3 linked regions of the Homo sapiens genome follow. The protein of the gene in region 1 purifies or fractionates together with the protein of each later gene. This does not show direct contact. Each region holds a gene or a part of one and is shown on either strand. Other genes may lie near its edges. The genes, in order: DCPH1, UPB1 and PYGB.

Region 1 (3,655 bases):
TTCTGACCTGTGTTAGTTTTGCCTGTTTTTTAACTTTACTGAAATGAAATGATACAGTGTATAGTTTTGTGTCTGGCTTCTTTCACTCATTTTTATGTTTGTGAGACTCATCCATATGTTACAATATAATTATAGATCATTCATTCTCATTGCTTTATAATATTGCATTTTATGAGCATATTACAATCTGTTTACTTCGTTGTGATGGATATTTGAGTACTTTTCAGTTTGGAGTTGTTAGGAAGAATGCTGCTATAAACATTCTGACACTTTTTTGCTGAACATATGTATGAATACATCTGTTGGATATATCCCTCCCTAGAAGTGAATCACTGGGTCATAGTGTGTGTACATACACAGCTTTAGTAGATTCTAAAATAGAAAACATTCTAAAATGAGAATTTATATATAGTTATGTGAGTTTACTCTCTTAAATACGAAAATAAGGCTCATTCTTAATATGAGATGTGACTTTAATGAATGGTTTGTTAATAAAACATTAGAACATGTTTTATTAGAACTTTCTGTAAAGGGCCAGGTAGTAAATCTTTTAGGCATAGGGGCCATGTGGTCTCTGTTGCAGCTGCCGAACCTGCCATTGTCGTGTGAATGCAACCTTAAATAATATGTAAGAATGAGCATGGCTGTGTTCTAAAGAAACTTTATTCAGCGGACACCGAAATTTGAATTTCATGTGTTACAAAATACTACTTTTCTTTCACTTTGTTTTCAGCCATTCAAAAATATAAAAACCACTCTTAGCATGTGAGTCAGACAGAACAGGTGGTGGGCCGGATTGGGTCTGTGCATCCGAATGATTTTTATCCTTTTAAGTCACCTTGAGAGACTGACTGATTTCAGCGGTGCTGCCATTGCTAAAACCATCTTTGAATTATTTGGAACTTCTTTCAGAGCCAGTTTACATGCCTCAAAATGAAAATTAGTCTTCCTGTATTTTTACTCATTTTTGATTAAAAAAAAAGTTTTTATCCAATTTGATCACACACCTCATTCTACTGAAATCACTCCGAGTGACTTTTGGCTGTTTCCAAAAATAAATTGACTCCAAAGGATGAAGATATGTGATCACTGACAGGAGGTTTAATGATGTGCCATAGGTTCTGAAGAAAATTCCTAAAGAGGAATTCCAAAAGTGCTCTGAGCAATGGCAGCGCCCTTGGAATAAGGGTGTAGCTTCCCGAGGTGACTGACTGGCTGGAAGGAGGCAGCCATCATTTGGATGTTTAAATACTGGTATGTTATTTAAAAAAACAAAACAAAACAAATCAAGCCGATTACATCAGTGTTAGATTGTTTTTACCCTAACATGAATGACCCATGGAAAAAGTAGCTAATTTGGAAGACCCAATAATCTGAATGTCTTTTATATTCAATTCAGTAAAGATTATTATATTAGTATTTATATCTCCTTAGTTATGATTTTCTTAGGCCAATATAATATGATTTAATCTCTCACTGGAAAACATGAAGGTGTAGCCATGCCACATATATCACCTTTGGTTAAAGTTGCCCAAAAATACCTAAAATTAGTGATAAAAAATTATCATTCTTCTAAAACTTACAATAGTATTGTCTGATTTATCTTAAGTACTCATTGTATTTCCATCATACTCTGTGTTTCATTCTGTTAATGATTGCTGCATTGTATTCAAATATTCTGTTTATATTCTATACATTTGTTACTGGAACTCTGCCACATCGGTGGTTAAAAAATGTTTGTTGAACTAAAGCAGTTGTCTTGAAATTTATCTTTCTCCTTCTTGTGCCCTGGAATCCCTGCTAGGTAGATAATTATGAGCATAGTCACTATCACTATTTAATATGTCCAGAAAAATACTTGATTTGGGAACTTTTTTGACAATTAAAATGAGTTTGAGAGATTTTTGTGTAATTTGATTATTTAGTATTAAGTTTTTCTAGTTAATTAGATAAATGTTATATCTAGTTTCTGTTAGCACTGATTATTGAGACTGTATGGTGCTATTTTCTTTCAAGAACTGCAGTTATCCAAATGTACAAACTAAAATGTTTCACTTTGTTTTTCTCCTACTTTAGTCCACCAATCGATTACTTTGATGTATTTAAAGAATCAAAAGAGCAAAATTTCTATGGGTCACAGGAATCCATCATTGCTTTATGTACTCACCTGCAACAATTGATAAGAACTATTGAAGACCTAGATGAAAATCAGCTGAAAGATGAGTTTTTTAAACTTCTGCAGGTAAATGTGATCATTAATCTTCTGAGTATGTTTTATTTAAACAGAAAATAAACTGCTATACAGTTAACAAAACATGTAAATATTTTTCTTTGCTATAATTGATGATTTTTTATCTAGTGGTGTTAAAAGATGAAAATCCATTTAATTGCTAGAAATGGGTTTGAAATATTTTTCTGCTCTCACTGGCTATGATTTTAGTGGCAAAGAAGTTATCTGACTTCCTAGCTTCTGTCATACTTGAGAGAATACTTCATAGTAATTTGCTTAGCTTTTGTCATGCTTGAAAGAATTCTTAATAGTAATTTGGTCTCCCAGCTGACTTGGGTGTGTGTTGGCTCTGTGGCTAATTTGTGTTTGGACCTGAGGCCTGTCACTTAATTTCTCTGGGCCTCAGTTTCCTCCTCTGTTCAGTGAGGATAATGTGTACTGTGTAATTTGATGTGAGAATTCAACTAGATGCTTGCATGTGAAGTGCTGAGCACAGAGCCTGGGATACAGCCTGCTGTTAGCATCGGTAGGTGATAATACTCGGGTATTCAGTTGGCCCATTAATACAGTTTCATTACATTTCTTTATCTTGTATTCAGTTTAGTTTTTAATTCATGCAAACATCCTGAAATTTACAACACATTATTAGAATCAGAACTATTAGGAGACGTGGTACACAGCAGTATCCCCAGCCCTCACATTTTCCAGAAAAAGTGAGGAAGACTTTCAAAAAGAAATGTTAGAAAGTGCTATGAAGAGAAATAAAGCAGGAAAAGGGCGTTGGGAATGTTGGAGAAGGGATCAGGGCTGCCAGGGAAGGGTCCATGGAGGCTGAGGCCACAGACCTGAAGGCAGGGAAGGAGTAAGTCAGGTGTATGTCTGCGGAGTACATGGAGAGGTGAGAAAAATTGCAAGGAAACCCTGTAGTTACTGAGAGGTAGCGGGGTGGAAGGGACACAGAACGGCTTGTATTAAATAAATTTTTACTAAAAGTGAAACAGAAGCCATCAGAGGGTTTTGAACAGAGAGGTAATGCTATTTGACTATTTCAAGGAATGTTTCTGAGAATAGACTGCAGGGGCTGAAGGTGGAAATGGGGAGAGCTGGTCTGAAAATGACTTGGGGAGGGAGGTTGGGGCCAAGTTGGTAGCATAAGAGTTAGTGACATCACCAGAGCCTGGGTGTTCTTTGAACATAGAAGCTACAGAACTTGCTAACAGATTATACCTGGAGACGAAGCCCTGGTGAGACCCCGAGGGCAAGCAAAGTCACAAATAAAGGCATATTTTGAGTTCAAAACAAAAATTGTCAGGACATTGTTTTGTTTTTTGAGACAGAGTCTCGCTCTGTTGCCCAGGTTGTAGTGCAGTGGCACGATCTCAGCTCACTGCAACCTCCGTCTCCCGGGTTTAAGCAATTCTCCTG
Region 2 (2,714 bases), on another chromosome or scaffold:
GAAGGTATTTTGTAGATGTGACAGAAGTCCATTCCCAATTGACTAAGTAAGTGAGATTATCTCAGATAATCTGGGTCAGCCTGACCTGATTAGTCAGAAGGCCTAAAGAACAGAGCTAAGGGTTTCCCTGAGGAAGAAATTCTGCCTGAGGACAGCAGCCCAGTGCTTGGCGAGAGTTCCTGACAGTCTGCCCTTCTGATAGCCTGCCTCACAGAGTTTAGACATGACTAGCCAGCTCCTACAATCACTGAAGTCAATTCCTTGCAATAAATCTCAATATATCCCCTACTGGTTCTGCTTCTCTAGTTGAATCTGACTGATACAGATTTTGGTGCCAAAAGTGGTTCTAGAAAAATAGAATCTTAAAGATGAGTTTTCTGCATTGGTTCTGGATTTTTTTAGAATTCTTCCCTAGTTTGATTGAACTTAAAGGCATCAATGACTCTATTTCCATAGAGTCAGGGTAAAGAGGGTAGTTGGTAGTCCATGGCATGGTGCAGCAATAGTTATTTATGTGCGAGACTAGCCATCAGCCATCAGTTTGTGCCCAGAGTTCCAGCCTGCCCTTTCTGATGGCTTGTCCTGTGGATATCAGACTTGCCTGACCAGATTCCATCATCATAGAAGGTAATTTGTTGCACTAAATCCTTTTATATCTCTATCCATCACCTACTAATTCTGCTAGTTCTGCTAATGTGGTTGAGCTCCATTTTACACATCAGATTACTCACTTCTCTACACCTTGGTTTTTACATCTGTAAAATGGGACTGGGCCAGGTGTGGTGGGGTGGCTTATGCCTGTGATCCCAGCACTTTGGGAAGCCAAGGCAGGTGGATCACTTGAGGTCAGGAGTTCAAGACCAGCCTGGCCAACACGGCGAAACCCCGTCTCTACTAAAAATACAAAAATTAGCTGGGCATGGTGGCGCATGCCTATAATCCCAGCTACTCAGCAGGCTGAGGTATGAGAATTGCTTGAATCTGGGAGGCAAAGGCTGCAGTGAGCTGAGATCACGCCACTGTGCTCCAGCCTGGACAACAGAGTGAGAGCCTATCTCCAAAAAAAAAAAGGGGTGGGGACCATATTCCTGCTTTATGTCAAGACACTGGTAAGAGACAGACTAGATGGGCCAGGGAGCCCCTTGGCAGTTATCAGTGCAGCGCCTATTTAGCCCTGTCCCTGAACAACACGGCAAGAGCCCAACCTGCCAAGTCTCAAATAGCAGTTAACCAGAGTATCGGGTTGGAGGTGGGGTTGAGATTCTGTAATTCCCCGCTTATTGTTCCCAATCAGAGAAGGCAGCCAGAGAAGGCAGCTTCATCCCTTCACTGGCCCAGCAGCTGAACTATATGGAAACCTCCATGTCAGGGCTAGGGTACTCCTGGACAGCCACCAAGGATGAGAAACCCTGATGGAGCTGCCTGGCCACAGCTCTGCGGTAACTTCCTTGAACTCTCTGTGCTGCAGGTTTTCACTTTACCTAATGGCCCTTCTTGCACCTTTAAAAAAAAAAAAAAAAAATTCCAGTCCTACAGACACAGTGAGCTTTTTTGCCTGTTCCTTTAGCTTTCAAAATTTAGTGTCAGCCAAGGCGGGCAGATCACAAGGTCAAGAGATGGAAACCATCCTGGCCAACATGGTGAAACCCCATCTCTACTAAAAATACAAAAATTAGCTGGGTATGGTGGCGCACGCCTGTAGTCCCAGGTACTCAGCAGGCTGAGGGAGGAGAATCACTTGAACCCGGGAGGCGGAGGTTGCAGTGAGCCGAGATCACACCACTGCACTCCAGCTTGGCGACAGAGTGAGACTCCGTCTCAAAAAACAAAACAAAACAAAACACCTTAGTGTTTTTGGTTTCTAGAGGGTGTAATCAACCTAATACAGAAGCCAGCTTAGGTGACAAATTGGTACATTTGTGAAACAGGCATGAATAAATGGACCACAACTCTTTGATTATCTGCAACTCTCATTGCCTGGAAACAGAACAGTCAGGCCCATCTTAGAGTATGCAGGCCCTGTACAGCCAAGGTCATTTCAAGGTTTAACTCATCCCTGGAACATGCAGATGCTCAGTAAACATTTGAATGAATCTGTGGTGGAGGTTTTTGCTTCCTGGTGATCATTGCTGATGCTACAGGGCAGTCTCTCAGACAAGAAATTGCAGTGGTTCAGTGTACATGGCCTGCAGGCCTGTGGGCCCCTGTGCAATCTTGGATGAAGCCTTCTGACCCCTCAGTTTTCTCACCGGTAAGATAACAGGTGGCTGGGCTCAAGAATTTCTCCCTAGAAATTCTCAGTTCTGGAAGGCCACCTTCCTGCCAGGCTATAGCTTTATTGCCGGAATCTGGGGTGGAGTAGGTGAACTTCAGTGTGCCCAAAAGAAAAAAAGGAGGCTGTGCACAGTGGCTCACATCTGTAATCCCAGCACTTTGGGAGGCTGAGACAGGGGGATCACTTGAGCTCAGGAGTTGAAGACCAGCCTGGACAACATAGACCTTGTCTCTATAAAATTTAAAAAAAATTAATAGGAAAAAAAGGGCTAAGGCATTATTAAATATAAACCAGACCACGTATTAGACCACAAAAAATTCCCAGTAAACTTAAAGATTAAAATCATAAAAGTGTATTTTCCCATCACAATGGAACAAAACTAGAAATCAGTAGTTGAAAGTTTTAAAAATTAAACAATGGCCGGGTGCGGTGGCTCACG
Region 3 (3,655 bases), on another chromosome or scaffold:
TTCAGCCTCCATGGCATGGCCCCAGCCACTCGAAGCCCATGTATTTGATTTAAAACTGTGTCCTACAAAGTCAAGACAACTCCCTCTGCACACCAGTGACCACCCAGCCTCCAGGCTCTCCTGTTATTGCCCGTCCTTCTCCATCACAGGTGGCTGAGTCTCACCGATGCCCCCACGTTCTCCTGCAGCCTCTCCTGCCAGCCCCTGCCCTGCCCCAGTCATCCCGGCTTACAGCTGCCCGGAGCCTGGACTGGGTGCTCCCTCACGTGGCCTCTGCGTGCCTGGCACCCGTCGCTGCCGAGCACTCTAGGCTCTTGCCCTGATTCCCCATCAGCACCCTGCTGGGCAGGAGGGCCTGGCCCCATCCCCGGATGTCACCCAGGCCTCGCACACACTCCAGGGGCTCTGACAGTTGACGCTTTGAGAGCCATGGGCCACGTATGGCGCCAGGAGGCCAAGCGAGCTTGTCGTGTGCTCCACAGAGATAGTGGGAGCTGTTTTCGCCCACCCTGGGGGTCCGTGCCCCCATCCCATCAGAACACCCTCCTGCCTGCCCTTAAGCAGCGGGGTTCTCGTGAGCATCTGGCTGTGAGTGGACGCCCAGCTGCATTCTTAGCCCCAACACACAGCTCCTGCCCAGCGGGGCTTCCCCCATGGAGTCTCGCTGCTGTGCTCAGCGCTTCCACTGTTTGGGAAGCTCCCATCAAAGTGTAAGAGACTGGGGAGTGAGGAGAATAAACCTCCCCCGGCTTTTACCTTAAGTCCTCCAGGGAGGCAGCAAGCCCCCCAAGCCAAAAGAAGCTGAGCTGTCTACAAATGAGCCGCAGCAGCCCCCTCACCTGGCTCCAGCCTTGCCCGCAGACATTTCAGCCCAGGTACCTGTGTGTCCAGCCACTTCACGCCGTCGGGGGTGTGCTCCACGCGTCCGTAGAAGTGCACGGGAAGCATATACTCAGGCCGCGCTTTCTCCCAGGGGTTGCCGTAGCGCAGCCAGTCATCGGCCTCCTCTACCTGGAAAGAAGCCAGCTGTGAGGGCACCCTCAGCGCAGATGTCCCAGGCCACCGCCCTGTCCTGGACCCAGCAGACCGTGCGGTCGAGATCACACAGTGCCTGGCACTGAAATTTACCTACAGCCACTTACCAGGTCGGGATTCCCACTTCTGGCGAAGCCCACGTGGGTAAAATGAACACAGTGGACACTAAAGTAACAAACTCAAAATTTAGAAACACGTGCCCAAAAAGAAAGACACTAAGAACCACTGACTGACACATGCTCCGATCTGGATGGAGCTTGAAAAACCTACACTCAGTGAAAGAGGACAGACAAAAATACCACGCATCACACGAGGCTATTTACAGGAAAATGTTCAGAACAAGCACCTGCACAGAGACAGAAAGCGGGTGAGAGGCTGTCAGGGGCTGGGTGTGACTGCAAATTGGTGCAGGGCTTCTTTCTGGAGGGATGAAAATGTTCTCAAGATAGACAGTGGGGACGGTTATCCAACTCTGAATATACTGAAATCGACTCTCTATTTCAATAAAGCTGTTATAGAAGAATCACTAGAAGACATTGCTTTGACGGGGACACACTGGCCAGGCGGAGGCTCACGCCTACAGTCCCAGCACTCTGGGAAGCCAGGGTGGGAGGATCGCTTCAGCCCACAAGGTCGAAGCTGCAGTGAGCTATGACTGTACCACTGCACTCCAGCCTGGGCGACAGGGCAGGACCTATCTCTAAAAAAAAATTATTAAATTAAAATTAAAAAAGAAAGAAAGTGACACTGCAAATCCGCAAGTGCTGGGGCCAAGTTGGCAGCTGGCAGTGAGGACGCCCTGGATGCACCCAGGAAGACAAGCTGTTCCGGGAGGGCTTCCAAGAAGAAGCTTATTCCCAGAATCTGTGCCCAGTGGCACTAGAGACGAGTAACTACATGAAACCAACCCCCACACTAAAAGCGGCCCTGCAGATTCGAGCCACCCTTGCACAGAAGCACTAGGGGGCTGCTTTACCACCACGTGACAGAGTAACTCCATCTGGTACAGCAGCAAGGGCGGATTCTGAAGTCTCAATTACTAAAACTGAAATGAGATCAAGTCTCTTCTCTTCAGAATGAACAGGCAGCCCTAGTATGCTACACTGAGGGATTTCCTCTTCATGGTTCCTACACAGACGCCAAGAGTCACGAGCAAGACTGTCTGGGCTGTGCTCTTCCGGAGGCCCCTCCGCACAGCAGGCCCCTCCGCACAGCAGGCACCTCCCCATGGTACTCCCAGCAAGACCCTTCTGGTGGCGTCTCCTTGTCCGCTGTGAGATTCCCCAACACCAGGGCCTGGCCATCTGCAGAGTTAGTCCAGGAGTCGTCGGCAGAAGCAACAGCTTCCCACATACAAAGGCAGCCTGAGTCTCCCTTGCAGGGCCTCCCTGCCCCCTTGGCCAGGGTGCCAAGCAGGCTGGCCTGCGGCCCCTCTGGCCACATGCTGCTGGCCAACCCTGCCTGTATTTACTTCTTCCATGGCTAAAGCCAACTAAAAACCCACTGAATCTGAACAGTTCCCATGAAAAGGGGATGGGAGGAGGGGTGAGCTTCACTTACTGATCATCCTAAACTATCACACAAAGTTGCAAGAGTTACAGGAACGAGGACCACCAGAAGGAAAAATGTCTCCCTGGTAAAACAAAAACCACCACCAATACCTTCCTGCTGGAAACCCTAACACCAGCTAGGCGAAGGGGAGCCTCTGAGCTTCTGCCTTATAAACCCACACGTGACATGGGGACTGCTGGGGGCCAGAATGAATCAGAGCATCAACATGTGCATGGACTGGACTGCCCTGGAGCTCAGGCACGCGGAGGGCTGGGGCAGAGCTGTCCGGAGGCAGTGGAGAAAGGCGCCTTTCTAAGGTTGCAGAGGGCATCTCCACAAATCAAGCAATGGATCCGAGTCCGTTTTAGGTTACTTTTAGCCATTTCTTTTCTTTACCAACATTTTATTATGAGCGTTTTCAAACATGCAGAAACATTATGCACCCACACCTAGGTGCTGTAAATGGTCTGTTGTTTCTCCGTCCACCAATCCATTGATTTTGGGGTGCATTTAAAGCAAGCTGCAGATATGAGTCCACATTCCCACTAAACGCATCGCTGTGCGTGTCATGGACAGCAGCTCCTTGCGTTTATGTTTTGGGTTAATTTCTCCATGGTGAGATACATGAGTCTTACAGACGCCATGGACGAGCCCTGGAGGCTGCACCTGCCGTTGAGGCCCAACCCCCCTTGCCACTCCCACCCCAAGGATATCTCTACTACCCGTCATGCACACATTCATTGGGGTTGTACATTCTGATGCTACAAATCTTTTGATTCTAATCCCAGACCAGCTTTATTTGTGACTTTTAGGCCCCAAATGATATTAAATAAACCATTTTCTAACCGAATGGAATAGTGGTGACTTTCATTCTGAGGCACATGGGAAGGGAGCTGCTCGCCAGGGAGGAGGAGGTTGCATTTTAAGACCACGCCCTCCTCCCGGCCATGGTCTCAACCATCTCACTTAGCTGTAGTGTGAGGCTTCAAGATCGAGGCTCACTCCTTCCAAGGGCCACTGTACTATGCAGAGTCCAGCCTCTAACCCCAAGGACACTGTCCCCTCACTG

The links.
Region 2: the proteins of DCPH1 (region 1) and UPB1 fractionate together in Homo sapiens (co-fractionation; one large-scale study listed by BioGRID). This does not show direct contact.
Region 3: the proteins of DCPH1 (region 1) and PYGB fractionate together in Homo sapiens (co-fractionation; one large-scale study listed by BioGRID). This does not show direct contact.

The regions. Positions count from the first base shown.
Region 1 is NC_000006.12:151,462,377-151,466,031, forward strand, and holds part of DCPH1 (damage-control phosphatase ARMT1), read left to right. Parts: intron 1-2,076; coding exon 2,077-2,242; intron 2,243-3,655. UniProt on the Homo sapiens protein: Metal-dependent phosphatase that shows phosphatase activity against several substrates, including fructose-1-phosphate and fructose-6-phosphate.
Region 2 is NC_000022.11:24,526,298-24,529,011, forward strand, and holds the end of UPB1 (beta-ureidopropionase), read left to right. Parts: 3' UTR 1-2,093; downstream 2,094-2,714. UniProt on the Homo sapiens protein: Catalyzes a late step in pyrimidine degradation. Converts N-carbamoyl-beta-alanine (3-ureidopropanoate) into beta-alanine, ammonia and carbon dioxide.
Region 3 is NC_000020.11:25,271,948-25,275,602, reverse strand, and holds part of PYGB (glycogen phosphorylase, brain form), read right to left. Parts: intron 1,012-3,655; coding exon 880-1,011; intron 1-879. UniProt on the Homo sapiens protein: Glycogen phosphorylase that regulates glycogen mobilization. Phosphorylase is an important allosteric enzyme in carbohydrate metabolism. Enzymes from different sources differ in their regulatory mechanisms and in their natural substrates.